2 linked regions of the Homo sapiens genome follow. The protein of the gene in region 2 interacts with the protein of the main gene of each other region in a pairwise test. Each region holds a gene or a part of one and is shown on either strand. Other genes may lie near its edges.

Region 1 (12,942 bases), on a different chromosome or scaffold from region 2:
AAAGAATGAAAACACAGGAAAAAGCAAAAGAAACATATAGGATGGTGTCAATGGGTCTGTAATGAATGTAACTGGGATTCCAGGAGAAGGGAAAAAAGATGGGGAAAAGCAAAATATGAAGCAAGTATGGCTGAGAATTTTTCAGTGCTGAGTAAACACATTAGTTTTAAAACATATATTACCTTCAAACAGATGACCTCTCAAAAACAACAGTAAAAAATAGAAAACAGTGGAATAATATATTTGAGTGGCTGAGAGGAAAAACAACAAACCTCTAATTCTATACTTACTGGAAATATCAGTCTTAAGAAAAAATACCTGTAATGTACAGTTGGAAAGGAAGAAAGAAATAAACAACTAAAATCATAAATATGTGGGCAAATTGAAATGAATACTAACTGCATAAATCTGTGCGCCACCTTGTCTGTCTAATTTTTATATCTTTTTTTTTTTTTTGTAGAGATGGGGTTTCACCATTTTGGCCAGGCTGGTATCGAACTCCAGAGATCAAGTGATCCGCCTGCCTCGGCCTCCCAAAGTGCTGGGATTATAGGCGTGAGTCCCCGCGCCCGGCCCAAGGGCTAGTTTTTTCTTTTTTCTTTTTCTTTTTTTTTTTTTTTAATACTGAGTCTGGCTCAGTCACCCAGGCTGGAGTGCAGTGGTGCGATCTCGGCTCACTGCAACCTCCGTCTCCCGGGTTGAAGCAATTCTGGTGCCTCAACCTCTGAGTAGCTGGGATTACAGGCGTCCACCACCACACCCAGCTGGTGACGCATAGCTGTAGTCCCAGCTACTCAGGAGGCTGAGGTGGGAGAATCGCTTGAACCCAGGAGGCAGAGGTTGCAGTAGGCCAAGATTGCCCCACTGCACTCCAGCCTGGGCGATAAAATAAAAATAAATAAATAAAAATAAATACATTAATATAATAGCATATAAATTGAGGAGAGAGTCAACAGAGTAAAGGAATGCTCTATGATTTTTATATTGGTCAGGAAGAACATAAAAATGTCAGTTAATGTTAGTCTTTGATGAGTGAAGTATACATGTGTAATTCCTAGAACAACTACTAAAAGATTAGTAAAAGAGATGTAAAAGACATGAAAGAGCACATTCCAAATGAACAGAAAAAAAAAACAGAATAAGAAAAAGTGTTAAATCGTCCAAAAAGGAGGAAAGAAAGGGGAAAAAAAGTAACAATTCTAAATCTTTATGTGCCTGATAACACGGCTTCAACACATCGAATAAAATGTTTACAGAACTGTAAGTAGAATCGCAGCGGAAGATTTCAACACAATTCTTTTCATATGGAAAGAGGAAGAAGCACGTAAAAATCACAGAACTACAAGCACGTGGAGCATGTTCTCTGATCACAGTGGAACTAAGCCTGAAACCTAAAACAAAGAGATAACCAGAAACACATATGTTTGTAAATTAAGAAATGCATTTCTAAATAACTCCTGGGTCAAAGAGCAGCTCACAGTGGAAATCAGAAAGTATTTTGAACTGAAAGACAATGAAAATACATTAAAATTATAGCCTTAAGTCTACATACTTGAGATAAAGGAAGGCTTAAATTCATGAGGCAAGCACCCAATACGAGAAGTTTGAGATGGAATAGCAAATTTAAAACAAATAAATTAGGTCAGGAGATCGAGACCATCCTGGCTAACACGGTGAAACCCCGTCTCTACTAAATATACAAAAAATTAGCCGGGCATGGTGGTGAGCGCCTGTAGTCCCAGCTACTCAGGAGGCTGAGGCAGGAGAATGGCGTGAACCCGGGAGGCGGAGCTGGCAGTGAGCCGAGATCGCCATTGCACTCCAGCCTGGGTGACAGAGTGAGACTCTGTCTCAAAAAATAAAACAAAATAAAATAAAAATAAATTAGATGGAAGGAAGTAATACAGATTAGAATAAAAGTTAATGAAAGAAATAATAAAAAGACAGAGTCAACAAAGTCAAAAGTTACTTTCTTTGAAAAACCAAATTGAACGGTACTCCTACTGAGACAGATGAAAAAACACACACAGGTGTGCACACACACACTAATAATAAGAACTTAAAAGAGACATATTTCATATTCTGCAGATATTAAAAAGCAAATGAATGACAACAGCAGTGACAGAAACCACATAATAAGGAATAATGTATCATCAGGCAAATGTGAAATACGTTTAAAATATCTTTCTAAAATGCAAAATGTGAAAATGTGGTTGCTTTTTAACTTAATAATAAGTCTCACACATTAACTATGTACAAGACACTGTGCTAAATTATTTTACTTTTATACCCATCTCACAATTCTAAGAGGAAAGCACTCTTTCTTTTTTTCTTTTTTTTTTTTTTTTTTTTTGAGTTGGAGTCTCACTGGAGTCTCACTCTGTCATCCAGGCTGGAGTGCAATGGTGCAATCTCAGCTCACTGCAACCTCTGTCTCCCAGGTCCAAGCAATTCTCCTGCCTCAGCCTCCTGAGTAGCTGGGATTTCAGGCAATGCCACCACACCCGGCTAAATTTTTAGTGGAGGTGGGGTTTCACCATGTTGGTCAGGCTGGTCTCAAACTCCTGACCTCAAGTGATCCGCCCACCTGGGCCTCCCAAAGTGCTGGGATTACGGGTGTGAGCCACCACACCTGGCCAAGAGCACCTTTCTATTCTTGTTTATGGAAAATGGGACTCAGAGAGGAAAAGTGACTTATCCCCAGTGTCACACAATCAGTGAGTGGGGTAATCATTAACCCAAACTGAGGCCTGGCTTCAAAACCCATGCTCTTAACCGGGGAGTTACACTGACTGACAGTGACTGCTCCTTGCCTGGACAACTTCAAACATGTCGATGCCTCCCTAGTAAGAAAACCAGAAGAATATCTGTGTTGATGCTACTAGATGGCCTCACTCTTTTTCACTCTAAGGTCCTCCTCATCTTTCTCCTCTTGTCCTAGTTCACTCTTTCTCTTCTTCTATATCTTTCTCCCTCTCTTTCTCATATATGGTGAGCAAATCAGGTTCTTAGCTGCTCGACAGAGGTTTTCATAGATGAGATGGAAACCTCTCTGAGAAAAAGGATGAAGCATTGTCTCTCCAAACACTTACAAGTTAGAAGAGAATGTTGATCCATCCTCCCAGAGCCATGGTACCTCAGTCTGGGGCCGAGAAAGGCCTATCCAAAATGAATTATCAGGTTGGGAAGACACTTGTTTTACTATAAATCCCTGTAATGAAACATATACAAATATATAATAAAGAGAGAGAGAGAGAGAGAAAGAAACTATTATCATGGACGCTGAGAAAAAGACAACTGATTGAATCACTTTGGTAAAGAATGCAAGGCCGGGCGCGGTGGCTCACGCCTGTAATCCCAGCACTTTGGGAGGCCGAGGCGGGTAGATCATGAGGTCAGGAGATCGAGACCATCCTGGCTAACAAGGTGAAACCCCGTCTCTACTAAAAATACAAAAAATTAGCCGGGCGCGGTGGCGGGCGCCTGTGGTCCCAGCTACTCGGGAGGCTGAGGCAGGAGAATGGCATGAACCCGGGAAGCGGAGCTTGCAGTGAGCCGAGATTGCGCCACTGCAGTCCGCAGTCCGGCCTGGGCGACAGAGCGAGACTCCGTCTCAAAAAAAAAAAAAAGAATGCATGCCTAACCTGACATCAACCTAGAGAGAAGTGCCAATTTTTGAATGTCATTGAATGTCTCAAAAGGCCTATCTTATTTATTTAAAGTAATTATCATTTAATTTTCCAAAAGAATAGATTTGTAATGTGAGGACTGTACTGCCTCCATTCAACCTATCTGACAAAATCCCAGATGACAGTCCCCCTAGGCAGTTTTCATGGATGATTAGCCATTGTCTTCTCCTCCAATTGAAGAAATAAATTGACGCTACTTTCGTTAAGAAGTACTTCTCAGAGTTAGGTAACAACTTAAAAATAATTTAGTCCAACTGTATATTTTATGAATATGTAATCTGAGGTTCAGTGAAGATATCTGAATTGTTTACAAATCTATAACAATTTATTTTCAATTATAGGCTGGCCTAAAAGTCAGATAGACTTGTAATCCAGTACTCTTTCTTTGCCATATATCTAGTTCCATTAACTTTAATATAAATTATTACTACTGGGTAAGACATTACAGAAACAAAAACAAAATAAGAATAGTGAAAGTAGGTGTAGAAGTTATAGACTGGTTTAGATTTATAACATAGAATTTTTCCTATTAACCCCTTATCTTACCTCATTGAAGCTCTACCCTTCATTCATGATGTGTTATAAGTGCCACTTTTTCTGAAAACTTCTTAGGAACACGGGGATCTCTTTAAACTCCTATAGAATTTATTGCTAATGCCAGATATTTAACTTTTAATAGCTGCTGAGTTGCTTTTTTTTTACTTAAAAGATTATATGTGTCCTGTGATAGCAGGGTTATGTTTTAACCCTCTTTGCCTTTCCCAGTATCTTGCAAAGAGTAAATAATTTCTAAACATATATTATCATTGTTGCCATTTTTCTTGATAATTATGATGACAAGGAGAAGAATTTTCTACTTTACTTCCACCATATTTAAAAATTGAAATACAAACTCACAAAAATGGGTAGTGTCCTGATTATTGTAGTCATGCATACATGGAGTATGTTTGAAAGGATTTGTTTTAAGGCGAAACACAGTTTTTTAAATTAGTTAAAAATAAAAGCATATACTATGCACTTTATGTGCTTAAGGCATGCTATGATTATAATTATAGAGATATTAAAAATGAATTTTGGCCAAGTATGGTGGCTTACACCTGTAATCCCAACACTGGGAGATCGAGGTAGGCAGATCGCTTGTGCCCAGGATTTTGAGACCAGCCCAGATGATATGGAGAAACCTCGTCTCTATGAAAAATACAAAAAAACATTAGACGAGTGTGGTGGTGCACCCTGTAGTCCTACCTACTCAGGAAGCTGAGGTGGGAGGATCACTTGAGCCTGGGATGTCGCGGCTTCACTGCACTCTAGCTTGGGCAACAGAGTGAGACTCTGCCTCAAAAAAAAAAAAAAAAAAAGACTTCATTTTAGGAAAAATTGTCATTACCTGGAATCTCCCTCTATCTTCCTTCAGGATACACACCACAGATAATCATAACAGAAGTCTACACTTACCAATTCATTTGAGCTGTCTATCTTTAGGAGATTAGAGCCCAGTTGCCAGCATTGTCTTTTACTTCCATCCCAGGAATTTAGTGACATGCTGAATAGATAACAGCTCTTCTCATATATAATCCAATTAGGAGGACAAGGGCTGGAAAGAACCCCTGGAAATAAAAGATTAGTACCATGAGGTTCATAGCATACCAATTCACTCTTTTAGTGTGAACACCATTCATCTTAAGGACACTTATGAAATAACCAATTAGTTGCCATTTTTATATTTCATTGTCAATTCGAACTACAGGGATATGATTTTACAGATGAGAATACATTAAAATCTTCCTATTCATTTAAAATTTAAAAACAAACTAGCTATAAATAGTATTTTAGGCAGCCAACCATCCTTTTTTTCTTCACTTGTCTTCTATTCCTTCTAATTCAGCTCAAAACTACCTTTCTCCTTAATAACTCCTTAAAATAAGTCCACTCACAATCAGTCATTGAGGTACACAGCAATTTCATATTGCTACTTATTTTATGATGTAAGATCTACTTCATAATGTGACTTTCCAAGTGAGAAAAGTATAGGCCAATTATTCATATTATACACTATCTCTGTTATATATTATTAGCTACTTAATAAAAATAGTGAGAAGGTATGGGTCCAGAGATGAAAAATTGAACTGAAAACATTAAGTCATAGTCAATTATGATGCAATTAGAAGTAAAAGTCAAGTGTGTATAGAATTGTAATTAAGTAAATGAAATTGTATGATTAAACAAATTTGATGAGTTTTCAGGGACATGTGTATTAGGTCTACCTCTTTTGTATATTTTTAATATAGCTTCCTTATTCTTGGCAACATTTTCCCTTCTTTCCTTTCTCCCTGTCATTCTTCCTTTCTAATGTCATATTTCCTATTCTAACTGTATCGCATTTAAAATGTCAATTCTGTAAGGGGAGAGAACACTTTTCTTTTATTTGTATCAAATTATATGATCTCCTGTAGATCTAAGCACATAGCCAGTGATAAATCAGTTACTGATTTTAAAAATTAATAAAGTCCAATTTAGAACTGTCCAGCCAACTGCATAGGGTACTTATAATTTCACCTTATTGTATATATGACAGGGATACATTACACTAAGGTAATACTAATATGTGTATTTGCCTTAAATTTACAATCATTGAATCTAAGTGTTTTTCTTTACACCCCTGCCCCAGGCTTCAGCACCAAGAATTAACCCTCTTGAGTCAAGATTCCGTCCTTTAACTATGCCCTTGCCTGTGGTTTTGACAGCTTTGGTAGGAGTCACACTGTCTTCTAAAGATGATTGTGTGGGTTGACTGTGGTTCTCTTTATTTCTTGATAGAAAGTAGCCATTCTCCAATGTGTTGCTTCCTGAATTGGATCTCCAAATAGCTTCACATACCAACAATAATAATAGTGACAGAAAAAATGTCATTCTGCTGTGTTTGAAAATTAAAATCCCAAAACCCAAATGTTATTGGAATAAAAGAATACATTATTGATTAATGATAAATAGATGATATATTGCTGTGGAGAGATAAAGACGATTGATAGAATAGATGAAAAGAAATACATAACTTTTATAAAGGAGGTATAGTAAAAAAAAAAAAAGAAAAGAAAAAAGAAGGTGGAGAAGAAGAAATAGAATGAGGGAGGCAGCAAGAGGCAAATGTCATAGAGTCAATTGGACCCATGACAGATTTGAAATAGCAACATCTTTCACCTTTCTTCTGTTATTTAAAAATGAGAGATCCTTGAGAAACTGCCCAGTACCTATAACATAGAACGCACTCAATAAACATTTGACTAATTAAGGAATGTCATGAAGACTCTCTGAAGGTGACTGACAACAGATTGCATGTGATATAAAATGTAAAAAAAATATTAATCCATTACAAAATATCGACTTAAGACCAAGTGCCTCAGGAAATTTCTGGTGTATTCAAAGGTGTTTATATTAAAGATCGGAAATAATTTCCTTAAATAATGTGAATCATAAAAATAGCTTAATGTCCATTTAGTGAATTTATTTCATTAGGAAGACAGCACCATATTGTACTTTCTTCTTCAGCTCCGCTTGTTTTCTTCATTAATTTATCCTTTGAATTCCACAGCTTTGAAACCAGCTATGTAAGGGAGGTAGGAGAGCAATGTAGTTAAGAGTATGAGTTTTTTAGACAGATCACCCAAATTTCTAATCATGGTCCCACCACTAACTAGCTTATAACCCTGGAAAGGTAAAATAACCTCTCAGTCTCTCACACCCTTTATAAGTGAAATGGGCATTAACAGCACCAACCCAATACAGATAAAACCAGATTATATACAAATTAAAGTAGATTATGCATGTCAAGCCCTTAAAAGAGTGCCTGGCACATAATAATTGCTTACTAAATTGTCTGTTGTTAATCTCCTCCACCAAATACTCACCCATGGTACCCAGGACCACAGCTATCACCAGTATTACCAAGCATAGGATTCCCAAAATTACAGCAATGAGGCGCCAAGGAGGAGATGCAGCACACGATCCTGAGGAGCCAGAGGGGGCAGAAATGGAATAAAGAAAGAGAATGACGGATGGTGGGGCAGTTTAATTCTACAGTTCATCAAAAATCTGGCCTTGCACGGTGGCTCACACCTGTAATCCCAGAAGGGAGACTGAGGTAGGAGGATTGCTTGAGGCCAGAAGCTCAAGACCAGCCTGGGCAACACAGGGAGACCCTGTCCCTACCAAAAAAAAAAAAGAAAAACAAAGAAAGAAAAAAAATTTAATTAGCTGGGCATTGTGGTGAGCTCCCGTAGTCCCAGCTACTCTGGAGGCTGTGGCAGGAGGATCACTTGAGCCTAGGAATTCCAGAGCAGCATAGGCAAAAAAGTGATACCCTGTTAAAACACACACACACACACACACACACACACACACACACACACCACCAACAACAACAACAAAAAATACTGGCAAATTTTTAAGTGAATTATTAATCACTGCCTAGGTTACCTGGTCACCTAGGATTTGCTGTGCTTCTCCACCAGTAAGGATACCTTCTTCTTCAATTGCTGGAATTGTAATTTCGGCACATTGGCTTGATAACTGTATGCTCCTAATTTCAGTTCCACATTGACATCTACAGGTCTTGACATTAGTAGGATCCCTGAAATCCCACTGATTCTTAGAGGAAATAGCTTAATGTTGGGGAGATAGCACTGATTACTAAGGGTAATTTTCCCTTTTCATATGTTTGTTGCATGACCCTGGGCAAATTACTCCCTTTGTTGTTTTTTATTCCTCTTTGTGAAACTGGGGTAATAATATCTCAAAGGATTATTGCGGGAATTAAACGAGCTAACACATATAAAAGCACCTTGTTTAGAGACTGCTAGCACATGATAGGTGTGTTGTTGCAGGATACCGTTTGCCTACACATATGCATAAACATGCGCATGTCTCCCTACCTCTTGCCTCATCCACTTTTTCCACGCTTCCTCAATAGGTTGCCCAAGAAAAGAATTACATCAGTGCTGAGAGGAAAATATTTGTGCAGTGTGAATAACCAGAAAGCAGAAGAAAGCAAACTCTGGTGTCAAAACCGACAAATGATCTCTCTCTCTCAAAGATAATAGGGAACTAATTTTGTATGAACATTGCCATAACCAGAATGTATTTCTGCTTTCCACTGTGACTAAGCTGTCAGGACATTTCATAGAATTGTCACATAGGAGAATCGTAGAGTAGGCTAAATCACCCATTCTATGAATACAGAGATCCTCCAATGCCCTTCTTTCTATTTCATTTCATTTACACTTTGTTTAAGACTCATGTCCTGCTGGTGGGATGTTTTTATCTACCATATGTTCATATATTTTCCATCACTGGTATACCAATAATTGTTTTTTGTTTAAAAACAATTTAAATTAATCTCTTACCACAAAAAAAAAATGTTGTTCATATATATACTTCTTTAAGTTTCCTGGCCTCCATTCGATAATCTAGCCTTTCTATCAAACAAGCAACAAGTCACTCATACAGAAATCCTTTATCTTTGTGTATTATCCCACTTATTACCAATTCCTCACTGATGAAATGTCTATATCTATAGAAAAGAGAAATTCTATTTTCTGCCATCAGACATAATTAATTTAAACACTAATAATTGGTCACTGAATAATTTTCATGAAAAAAGGTTTAGGGTGCATTCAATTTATCTTCAGTGACATCTGAAGCCTTTAAAAGTATATCCATAAAAATATACACATCACGAGGCTCTCAAATTTTCTCCCCTTATATCTTTTTGTTTTGTTTTTATTTTTATTTTTTTTCAGAGATGGAGTCTTGCTCTGCCACCCAGGCTGGAGTGCATTGGCATGATCTTGGCTCACTGCAACCTCCACCTCCCAGGTTCAAGTGATTCTCCTGCCTCAGCCTCCCAAGTACCTGGAACTACAGGCGTGCACCACCATGCCCGGCTAATTTTTGTATTTTTAGTAGAGACAGAGTTTCACCACGTTAGCCAAGCTGGCCTCGAACTCCTGACCTCAGTCAATCCACCCGCCTCGGCCTCCCAAAGTGCTGGGATTACAGGTGTGAGCCACCATGCCTAGCCTCCCCTTATATCTTTTCAAACGGGAGAGCTAAAGGCACACATTAGAAAAAACATATATATACCTTTCTCTGAAACAACAGCTATCCTGGTATTGCTTTGAGAGTCGAAGTGTAATTGAGTATATCCATCTTCATCCAAATTTTCTAAATCAGGATGATATTCCATTGTTCTTGAGAGCCCCTGAATAGATATAGCATTTGGGAGCTCTTTTCTTTCTGCTCCTGAGATGACTGTCTGTGGACAAAAGAGAATCTCTGAGTCAAATCATGTGGGCTAGGTACTTACCGGAGTTTAACAAATTAAGCTTAAGTAGTTCAACCAGATATTCAAGAGCAGGAAATGAAACTATGCTGTGGTAATTTTCCATTTGTACCTTTAGATCCTGTTTCTGAGACTGCTGACTCAGGAAAACTAAAAGGCAGCATAGCAGATGAGTCTTTGTTTCAGACCAAATGTAAGAAAAATGCATACATTAATGTCTTATGCTGCCTTCATTACTCTCACAACTAAGTCTGACATTAATTAATTTAACCGATGCAAACTATTTCAGTTTTGGTGCTCCAAGTTTACCATAACTTTGTTCATGTATTTATTCATGTATTTTTTAAATTACATAAACAGGTACTGGATGCCCACCTTTTCAATTGGTAGGAGCTTACAATACAAGGAAAAATGATACCTATGAAGAAACTCATTGCTTAATAAAGGAAATATATAGATAGGTAAATGAGGGATGGCATGAGGAGATGCATTGTTGTAACAACAGACAGAGAAAACAAATCTCTTTGGGAATTATCAGATATTAACACAAAATAACATTTATTGAACAATTACTATGAGCTAAGTACCACATGTTGTACATATTTTCTTGTTCAATCTCACTTTTCCAAGTCTATATAGTAGGCATTATTATTTCTATTTTCAAATGAAAAAATGAGACAGAAAATTTAGCCTCTTTCTCAGGTTTAAGAAGCTAATTTTAAAAATTTAGAGCAAGGAATCAAATCAAAGCTGACTCTTGCTGCAAAACTCGTGGTCTTTTCTGTTACGCTACACTGCCTCTTTCATCATTCCATACACTTATATTGCAAGGAACAGCTTATGGAAGGTGTTGGGACTGAAATATTATGTTAGATGTTTGATTTTTTTTCCCTCTCTTCCAGTTTCCATAGTAATGATCAAATCAAAGAAATATAGAAAACACCTAACATTGCTGGAAACTGAAGAGGTGTTCAACTCATTTATCCGACCTTGAAGCCAGTAGAGTGCAGGAGACATCTGAGTGTTGTCAAGGATCAACAAATCTGGATACTAGTTAATGTGGTGAGGACAGGTTTTATTCAGTAATACTATTGCAACAGGAACCAGTGCAGCATTAACTGAACTCAACTTCCCCAAAAGTAAAGCTGATGACATTTTAAAGTGGAGTTTGCTAAGGAAAAGATACTGAGTGGTGTTAAGGAAAGTTAATGTGACTAGACTCTCTGGATTTGTTAATTGGCCCTTATCCAGAGGACAGAGAAACTTTGCCTATCTATATGACAGAAGGACATGGTGATAGTTGAAGTGAAGCACCCAGCTAAGTTGGTCCTTATGCTGCATCTGAAAGAAAGAGCAAGATTTATCTCCCTGAATGTTTGCATTTCAAAGAAACAGCTCCCAAGTCCTTGAAGAAACAGTTCTGTGTGGTAGATTTGCTTCTCAAAGGGCAGAGAAAGAATTTAACTGTAAGATTTATTTTTCTTTTCTTTCTTTTTTTTTTTTTAGACGAAATTTCGCTCTTGTTGCCCAGGCTGGTGTGCAAATGGCACGATCTCGGCTCACCACAACCTCCGCCTCCCGGGTTCAAGCGATTCTCCTGCCTCAGCCTCCTGAGTAAGCTGGGATTACAGGCATGTGCCACCACGCCAGGCTAATTTTGTATTTTTAGTAGAGACAGCATTTCTCCATGTTGGTCAGGCTGGTCTTGAACCCCTGACCTCTGGTGATCCGCCTGCCTCGGCCTCCCAAAGTGCTGGGATTACAGGCGTGAGCCACTGCACCTGGCCTAACTGTAAGATTTCTAAAGTAACTGCTCTAAAAGGAATTCAGGAGCCTATCTGTTACCAAGTTTTTTGTTGTTGTTGTTGTTTTGAGACAGAGTCTCGCTCTGTTGCCCACGCTGGAGTGCAGTGGCGCGATTTCGGCTCACTGCAAGCTCTGCCTCCTGGGTTCACGCCATTCTCCTGCCTCAGCCTCCCAAGTAGCTGGGACTACAGGCGCCCGCCACCATGCCTGGCTAATTTTTTGTATTTTTAGTAGAGACAGGGTTTCATCGTGTTAACCAGAATGGTCTCGATCTCCTGACCTCGTGATCCGCCCGCCTCGGCCTCCCAAGGTGCTGGGATTACACGCATGAGCCACCACACCTGGCCTGTTAACAAGTTTTAACTGGAACAAAAAGTAAATTCTCCTAGCAGCATTGGGCTTCCTCAGGCTGGCCTTTTAAGTAGTGCTGAATCATCCTATGGACCTTGCCTTAGGCTACTAGAAGGCGTGCTAGAGTTTGCCAAGTCTCTAGTGCAGAGATTTGGGAGGAGTTGTTATATGATGAGGGCTCTGCAGTTCTGACAGTCTAACACCTATCAAAATGGAAGAGAGCTCAAGAGAGTACATAAATGAGCTTCCCGCCTTACTTAAGCTGCCACAAAAGTTTTACTAAGTTTTTGTAGACATGTTGCAAAGTGGTAATGTGGATCTTAATCTCAACATTCATCAGTGTTTCAGTCCTATAATGCAGTGCTTGGAAAGCAGCGTATGAGGTTCAGGACATGCAACCCCAAAATATGGATTCTTGGCATTTGAGAAAACAGCAGAATCAGGAAATTCACTCTCACACCTTTCCCCGTCTTTCTGCCCTGAAGCAGATCATAAGACCCTTATTTTAGAAGTATTGTTTCCTAGAGGAAAGAAACTTCCTTATCTTTGAAGATACAGAGATGCCAAGAAGAATCTGAACAAATTAGTCTTGCTAAGCTCCCTCCAGTTTATTAGCATTAGATCATACCCTCCTTGTCCAACGTAGGGGAGAAAAAGTAGTATCTTTTCCTTGCCCATCACCAGGTTCGTGACTGAGACCCCTATAACAAAAGACAGATTAACAAAACAAAAGCATGTAAATGTTATACGACAAGAGAG
Region 2 (7,000 bases):
GACCGCTAGGAATTTACTACAGATTTCCTTGCTGAGTGAGCCAGGCTGCGTGCACAAGTTCATTGCTACATTATTAGTTATGCTGAAAATGGAAACAACATGTCTACCAACAGGGGACTGCTTCAATAAATTTAGTGGGAGCCATGTGATAAAACTCTAAGCAGAATGAGGCAGGGGAGACAGAGAGATGTCCAAGCTGTGCTCAGTGGGAAAAGCATTGTCATATGATGCTGCGTCTGCTGTATTTGCAGGGAATATAACTAGGACCATAACACAAAAACCGGCACACAGGGATGATCTCTTCAGAGGGGGTCTTGGTACAAGGGGAGGAGGAGATTCGAATATTTTTTAAACTTGTACTTTTTTTGGTAGTTTAATAAGTTTAAAATTGAAAAACATTGTACAAGGATTCACGTTTTTCTAGTTCTCACCCCGGGTGTTTCTCCTGTGACTTGTGTGGTGAGATCAAGGGGTTCTAGAGGCCCCATCCCAGAGCTAAGGAGTCTCTGGGATGAGTTGGGGCTTTTTATCTATTATGATAAAACATATATAATGTAAAATTTGCCATTTCAACCATTTTAAGCCTACAGTTTGGTGGCATTAATTACATTCACAATGTGCAACCGTCACCACTGTCTATTTTCAAAACTTTCATCACTTAGGCTTCTTTTGACCTTGAGCTCTGTGGCATGGGGTCTGCGAAGGCCCTGCTCTCCCTTTTCAGAGAACAACCTGTAGCCAAGGGTGTTCCAGCTGTACCTTGTGGGCTGGGATGAGGACTCTGTTCCCTCTCTTGCCTGGAGCTGCCTGAGCTGTAGGTGACAGGTCTTGTTTCTGAGTGCTCCAGGGGCATAGGGCGGCAGGCACAGGGCTCTCTTTGAAAGGAGAACCGCCTTATCTTCCATGCCTCTGTAGGTTGCTGGGGGTCTAGCTGTGGGACTCTGGGGAAAGGCGGGTCTCCTGCTTCCTGGCCTTCCCTCTCTGAGCCTCAGTTTATGCTCAGGAGGAGCAATGGGAATGGGGCTTCACCTTGGCTACCTCTCTGCCCTTTCAGACATCACGGCTGCAGCCCTGGCTACGGGTGCCTGCATCGTAGGAATCCTCTGCCTCCCCCTCATCCTGCTCCTGGTCTACAAGCAAAGGCAGGCAGCCTCCAACCGCCGTGAGTATTCCTCCCTGCCTGGGGTGGGTGGACGGTGCGAGTGACCTGCTCCAGCCCCCAGTTCAGCCCCTGGGATTCGCAAAGGCACGATGCAGGCACAATTCCTTTTCATTTGAGAGTTGGGAGCAGCTGCACTTCCCGCCAGGAGCTGGGCGAAATGGCCGAGAGAAAGGAGGCATGCCATTTCCGGGGGCCAAGTGCCCACCAGCCCCTTTGGCTCCCAGGCAGTGCTGGCTCGGCACTCAATACATGTCTTCTGAATGAATGATCATATGCAGTAGCTCAAGTTGCTTTATAAAAGCAAGTTGCTGCCACTCAGAGATCCTTGGGGGACCTGTTTAAGGTATGGGCGTGCTTGTTTTGTAATTAGTAGCAATTGTTGGGACAAAAAATGATCTTTGGAATATCAGAAGTGGAAGGGGTCTTACAGACAACTTAGCTCAACCCTTTCTTTTTCCAGATGAGAAGGCTAAGATCAGTGGGGTTACATAACTGACTGAATGTTACGTAACTTAGTAAGTGGCAGAGCTAGGACTCAATCTCAGAGCTTTCAACGCATGCTCTTTCCAGGGAATAGAAGTCCACCATATAATAAAAATGCTCTCACTTACTCCTCATTGCAAGTCCAAGAATTTGGTCCTACCATTGTCCCCATTTTACTGATGGGCAAACGGAGGCACAGAGGGGTTAAGTAACTTGCCTAAGGAACCACACAGCAAATAAGTGGTGGGGCTGGGCTTTAAGTCATGGGCACAAACATCTTTCACCTCCCACCCTGGCCAGGTGACAGTGCCCCTTGCCTAGTTCCTGACCCTGCCCTTGAGTCTTGGTTAGTCTGAGTCCTCCAAGAAGGGGCTAGGGAGTTTTTTACCCTTGCCTCCCCTCCCTGGCCTCTTCCCGTCTGCCTGGCTACAGAGGTAACTGAGAAAGGATTGCTCTGGTGCCAGGTGGCTTTTGGCTCGCAACTTATTTCCTGTGGCCGGCCCTTAACAACTTGTCATCCCTCCCTCCCCTCATTCCCGGGGGCCCCCACGTGAAGCCCCATAGTGGGTCACTCGGGGGCTGTGGCCACCTCACCCTTGCTTTCAGAACTCCCCTATTCCTCTCCTAGAACACACCACAACCTACCTGCAGGAATACCCATGGCTGGGGGTGGGTGGGGGCAGGTAAAGGGCTTGGAACAGAAGAGCAACGCTGGGCAGCAGGGCAGGGGGAGCAGGTGTTGCTGTGCCCTCCCTGGTGGAAGGCTGGCCCAGAGAGCCTGCTCAGGAATGAGGCACTCTCAGGAAAAAAAGAAAAGGAAAGGGCTGGGAGCCTTGAGGACGGCAGTTTGCTGGAGAGGCCAACAGGTGTGGATTTCCATCCTGCTTTGGACTGAGCCTCAGTTTCCCCAGCTCTAAAATGGGACCAACAACCCTCACCCCAAAGGGTGGCACAGAGGATGAGATGAGGGAATACCCGTGTGCACCTGCACGAAGCCTGACCCATGAGTCGGCTGTAAGCAATAGCCATGGTTTGAATAGATTTCAGGAACTTTTGGGTAACTTCCCTGTGTTTGTTCTGTTGTTGTGCCCCTCCCCCACCATCTGTTTCCCCATCGTAATCAGCAGTAAATCTCCTTAAAACGAGAAGCATCTGTGGGAGGACATGGGGTGCTGCATGAAAGAGGGAAGTTGGGGTCACTGCATCTAATTGGTGGCCAGTTTGGGGGGTGGGGTGTCCCAAGGCTGAGGCAAGCGGCAGCAACTTGGATGAGAAGCAGAAAGTGAGTGAAGTGGCTGGGAAGTGATCGGGGACTTGCACCTTGTAAGGTTTCCCTGAGAGATGTCCCCTAGAATGCCACCCTATTAGGCAATGTAGGGGATAGGACAGAGAGGACCAGGAGCCCTCTAATTAGGAACTGACCTTAAACACTCCCACCCAGTAAGTCATGGCTAAAGACCAGAACCTGGCAAATGTTCAAACAAGAGACACCAGTTAGCAAATTCAAGAGTTGACCTTTGCTCGATACTTAAATCCTGAAGGTCTGACACTGTGTAAGTCAAGCCATAGGAGAAAGCGCTGGCTGCCTTTGGTCTCCTGATGGCAGATAGCGTTCTTACACTCCTGGAAAATGCAGATAGAGTTTCATTTATCAGTCGTCAAAATGGGCCCCTCATGGAGGCCCCATCTGCTGGACAGACACGCAGATCGCTTGCTGGACAGCACCCATGTGAAAAGAAATGGAGTCCGGAGCTGTGCAGGGCCCTCCTGGGCTCGCTCCTGTTCCCTGCAGGGCATCTGCCAGCAGGGGCAGGGATGTTGTATGGGGAAGCCTTCCCTTCCATGACCAGCTTCTCTGTCTGTCTGTCCCTAGGTGCCCAGGAGCTGGTGCGGATGGACAGGTAAGGCCCATGGAGACCTTCTTGAGAAAACTTCCTGGGCCGGCTATCCAGGAAGAGATACTTCTGTGCAGTAGGGGCCCTGTTTAGCTGCCTAGAGCAGCTGGTCAGAAGAGCCTCTGCCATCTGCTGCTGAAGCCTGCACATCTGTGCAGATTGGCTGTTCTCCTGCCACCCCGACTCAGCAGGCTGAGCTCTGATTCTGCTCAGATGTGTCATGCACCCACCTTCGGGTCTCAGTGGTCAGCCTGGGCCAGGATGGGGACAGGGAGGAAGCACTGTCTGGGGCAGACAGTGAGACATGCAAAGGAGGCCAGCGGGCCCAGCCCCAGCCACAGCCCTTGAGCTGTGCCTCCTGCCCGCAGAGAACTCCAAGGAGAAAGCTGTTAGGCCGCTGCAGGCCACAAGGGCAGAGGCTGAGGGGTCCCAGAGTGGTGCAGTGGGCTGGGTCTAGGGGCAGAGGGGATGGGGACTGTGTATTGGTGTGCTCTGGGCAGGAAGCTGCCATGCAGCCTGGCCTGGAGGGTGTGTTCAGGGAACCCAAGTTCCTGCCCCGGTACCTGCAACACCAAACACAAAGCTCCTCTAGGTGTTTGAAAGGGATGATCTTCAAGACAGGTTGAAGGAAGTCCTGCTTGCAACTCATCTAGAATCTAAGAGTTGCAGGGGTCTTCAGAAGTTATCCCACTCCCAACTGGGAAGAGAAGAGAACCCCTCCCCTCAGCTCAAGACAGGCTTTGGGGATGTTCGATCCTAATGCCATCAACTCTATTGACCAAAGAGAAACTTGTCCCCAAATTCCTGAGGCTGAAGTTCTAGAAGTGTCTGTGATTTTTGGCTTCCTGGCTGTGCCCGGGGTTGATGGTCAGACCACAGGGAGGAGCTGGGGTCTGTTCTGGTGGGCCCTGATGCCCTCAGCTCAGGACAGGTGGGCAGGTGCAGCCCATGGCCTTTGCTCTGTGGGCCTGGCTCCTGCCTTCTTGCTTGGAGATGCTGCTGAGGCTTGGGGATGGGGATGTAGGTGAGAGAAAGGGAGGAGAGAAAAACTGGGGGCAGGGAGGGCAGAGTTCACGCTCCGGACAGCACAGATGACCTTCCATTCTGGTTCTGTGGCAGCAACATTCAAGGGATTGAAAACCCCGGCTTTGAAGCCTCACCACCTGCCCAGGGGATACCCGAGGCCAAAGTCAGGCACCCCCTGTCCTATGTGGCCCAGCGGCAGCCTTCTGAGTCTGGGCGGCATCTGCTTTCGGAGCCCAGCACCCCCCTGTCTCCTCCAGGCCCCGGAGACGTCTTCTTCCCATCCCTGGGTAAGTGTTTCCTGACCTTCACAGCACGATGACCTGTAAGGTCATGACCTCATGGCCTGCAGGGCATCGGCCTCACTCCCTGCCCTCCCTGAAGAGTTCCACGGCCTCACGGGGTGGGGTTGAGGGTGAGGGACAGAGGGGCCCCCATTCACCTCCCTGAAGAGTTCCACGGCCTCACGGGGTGGGGTTGAGGGTGAGGGACAGAGGGGCCCCCATTCACCTCCCTGAAGAGTTCCACGGCCTCACGGGGTGGGGTTGAGGGTGAGGGACAGAGGGGCCCCCATTCACCTCCCTGAAGAGTTCCACGGCCTCACGGGGTGGGGTTGAGGGTGAGGGGCAGAGGGGCCCCGTTCACTTTGCTTCTCCTTTTCTTGCAGACCCTGTCCCTGACTCTCCAAACTTTGAGGTCATCTAGCCCAGCTGGGGGACAGTGGGCTGTTGTGGCTGGGTCTGGGGCAGGTGCATTTGAGCCAGGGCTGGCTCTGTGAGTGGCCTCCTTGGCCTCGGCCCTGGTTCCCTCCCTCCTGCTCTGGGCTCAGATACTGTGACATCCCAGAAGCCCAGCCCCTCAACCCCTCTGGATGCTACATGGGGATGCTGGACGGCTCAGCCCCTGTTCCAAGGATTTTGGGGTGCTGAGATTCTCCCCTAGAGACCTGAAATTCACCAGCTACAGATGCCAAATGACTTACATCTTAAGAAGTCTCAGAACGTCCAGCCCTTCAGCAGCTCTCGTTCTGAGACATGAGCCTTGGGATGTGGCAGCATCAGTGGGACAAGATGGACACTGGGCCACCCTCCCAGGCACCAGACACAGGGCACGGTGGAGAGACTTCTCCCCCGTGGCCGCCTTGGCTCCCCCGTTTTGCCCGAGGCTGCTCTTCTGTCAGACTTCCTCTTTGTACCACAGTGGCTCTGGGGCCAGGCCTGCCTGCCCACTGGCCATCGCCACCTTCCCCAGCTGCCTCCTACCAGCAGTTTCTCTGAAGATCTGTCAACAGGTTAAGTCAATCTGGGGCTTCCACTGCCTGCATTCCAGTCCCCAGAGCTTGGTGGTCCCGAAACGGGAAGTACATATTGGGGCATGGTGGCCTCCGTGAGCAAATGGTGTCTTGGGCAATCTGAGGCCAGGACAGATGTTGCCCCACCCACTGGAGATGGTGCTGAGGGAGGTGGGTGGGGCCTTCTGGGAAGGTGAGTGGAGAGGGGCACCTGCCCCCCGCCCTCCCCATCCCCTACTCCCACTGCTCAGCGCGGGCCATTGCAAGGGTGCCACACAATGTCTTGTCCACCCTGGGACACTTCTGAGTATGAAGCGGGATGCTATTAAAAACTACATGGGGAAACAGGTGCAAACCCTGGAGATGGATTGTAAGAGCCAGTTTAAATCTGCACTCTGCTGCTCCTCCCCCACCCCCACCTTCCACTCCATACAATCTGGGCCTGGTGGAGTCTTCGCTTCAGAGCCATTCGGCCAGGTGCGGGTGATGTTCCCATCTCCTGCTTGTGGGCATGCCCTGGCTTTGTTTTTATACACATAGGCAAGGTGAGTCCTCTGTGGAATTGTGATTGAAGGATTTTAAAGCAGGGGAGGAGAGTAGGGGGCATCTCTGTACACTCTGGGGGTAAAACAGGGAAGGCAGTGCCTGAGCATGGGGACAGGTGAGGTGGGGCTGGGCAGACCCCCTGTAGCGTTTAGCAGGATGGGGGCCCCAGGTACTGTGGAGAGCATAGTCCAGCCTGGGCATTTGTCTCCTAGCAGCCTACACTGGCTCTGCTGAGCTGGGCCTGGGTGCTGAAAGCCAGGATTTGGGGCTAGGCGGGAAGATGTTCGCCCAATTGCTTGGGGGGTTGGGGGGATGGAAAAGGGGAGCACCTCTAGGCTGCCTGGCAGCAGTGAGCCCTGGGCCTGTGGCTACAGCCAGGGAACCCCACCTGGACACATGGCCCTGCTTCTAAGCCCCCCAGTTAGGCCCAAAGGAATGGTCCACTGAGGGCCTCCTGCTCTGCCTGGGCTGGGCCAGGGGCTTTGAGGAGAGGGTAAACATAGGCCCGGAGATGGGGCTGACACCTCGAGTGGCCAGAATATGCCCAAACCCCGGCTTCTCCCTTGTCCCTAGGCAGAGGGGGGTCCCTTCTTTTGTTCC

Evidence for each region.
Region 1: the proteins of VSIR (region 2) and CLEC7A interact in binary tests that used the Homo sapiens proteins (3 or more experiments, as listed by UniProt).

Annotation. Positions count from the first base shown.
Region 1 is NC_000012.12:10,120,153-10,133,094, forward strand, and holds the start of CLEC7A (C-type lectin domain family 7 member A), read right to left. Parts: upstream 10,048-12,942; 5' UTR 9,931-10,047; coding exon 9,828-9,930; intron 7,694-9,827; coding exon 7,595-7,693; intron 7,291-7,594; coding exon of another isoform or gene 7,259-7,290; exon of another isoform or gene 7,171-7,258; intron 6,557-7,170; coding exon 6,419-6,556; intron 5,297-6,418; coding exon 5,145-5,296; intron 5,022-5,144; coding exon of another isoform or gene 4,935-5,021; intron 3,212-4,934; coding exon 3,093-3,211; intron 1-3,092.
Region 2 is NC_000010.11:71,749,521-71,756,520, reverse strand, and holds part of VSIR (V-type immunoglobulin domain-containing suppressor of T-cell activation precursor), read left to right. Parts: intron 1-1,054; coding exon 1,055-1,162; intron 1,163-3,518; coding exon 3,519-3,546; intron 3,547-4,659; coding exon 4,660-4,853; intron 4,854-5,230; coding exon 5,231-5,268; 3' UTR 5,269-7,000.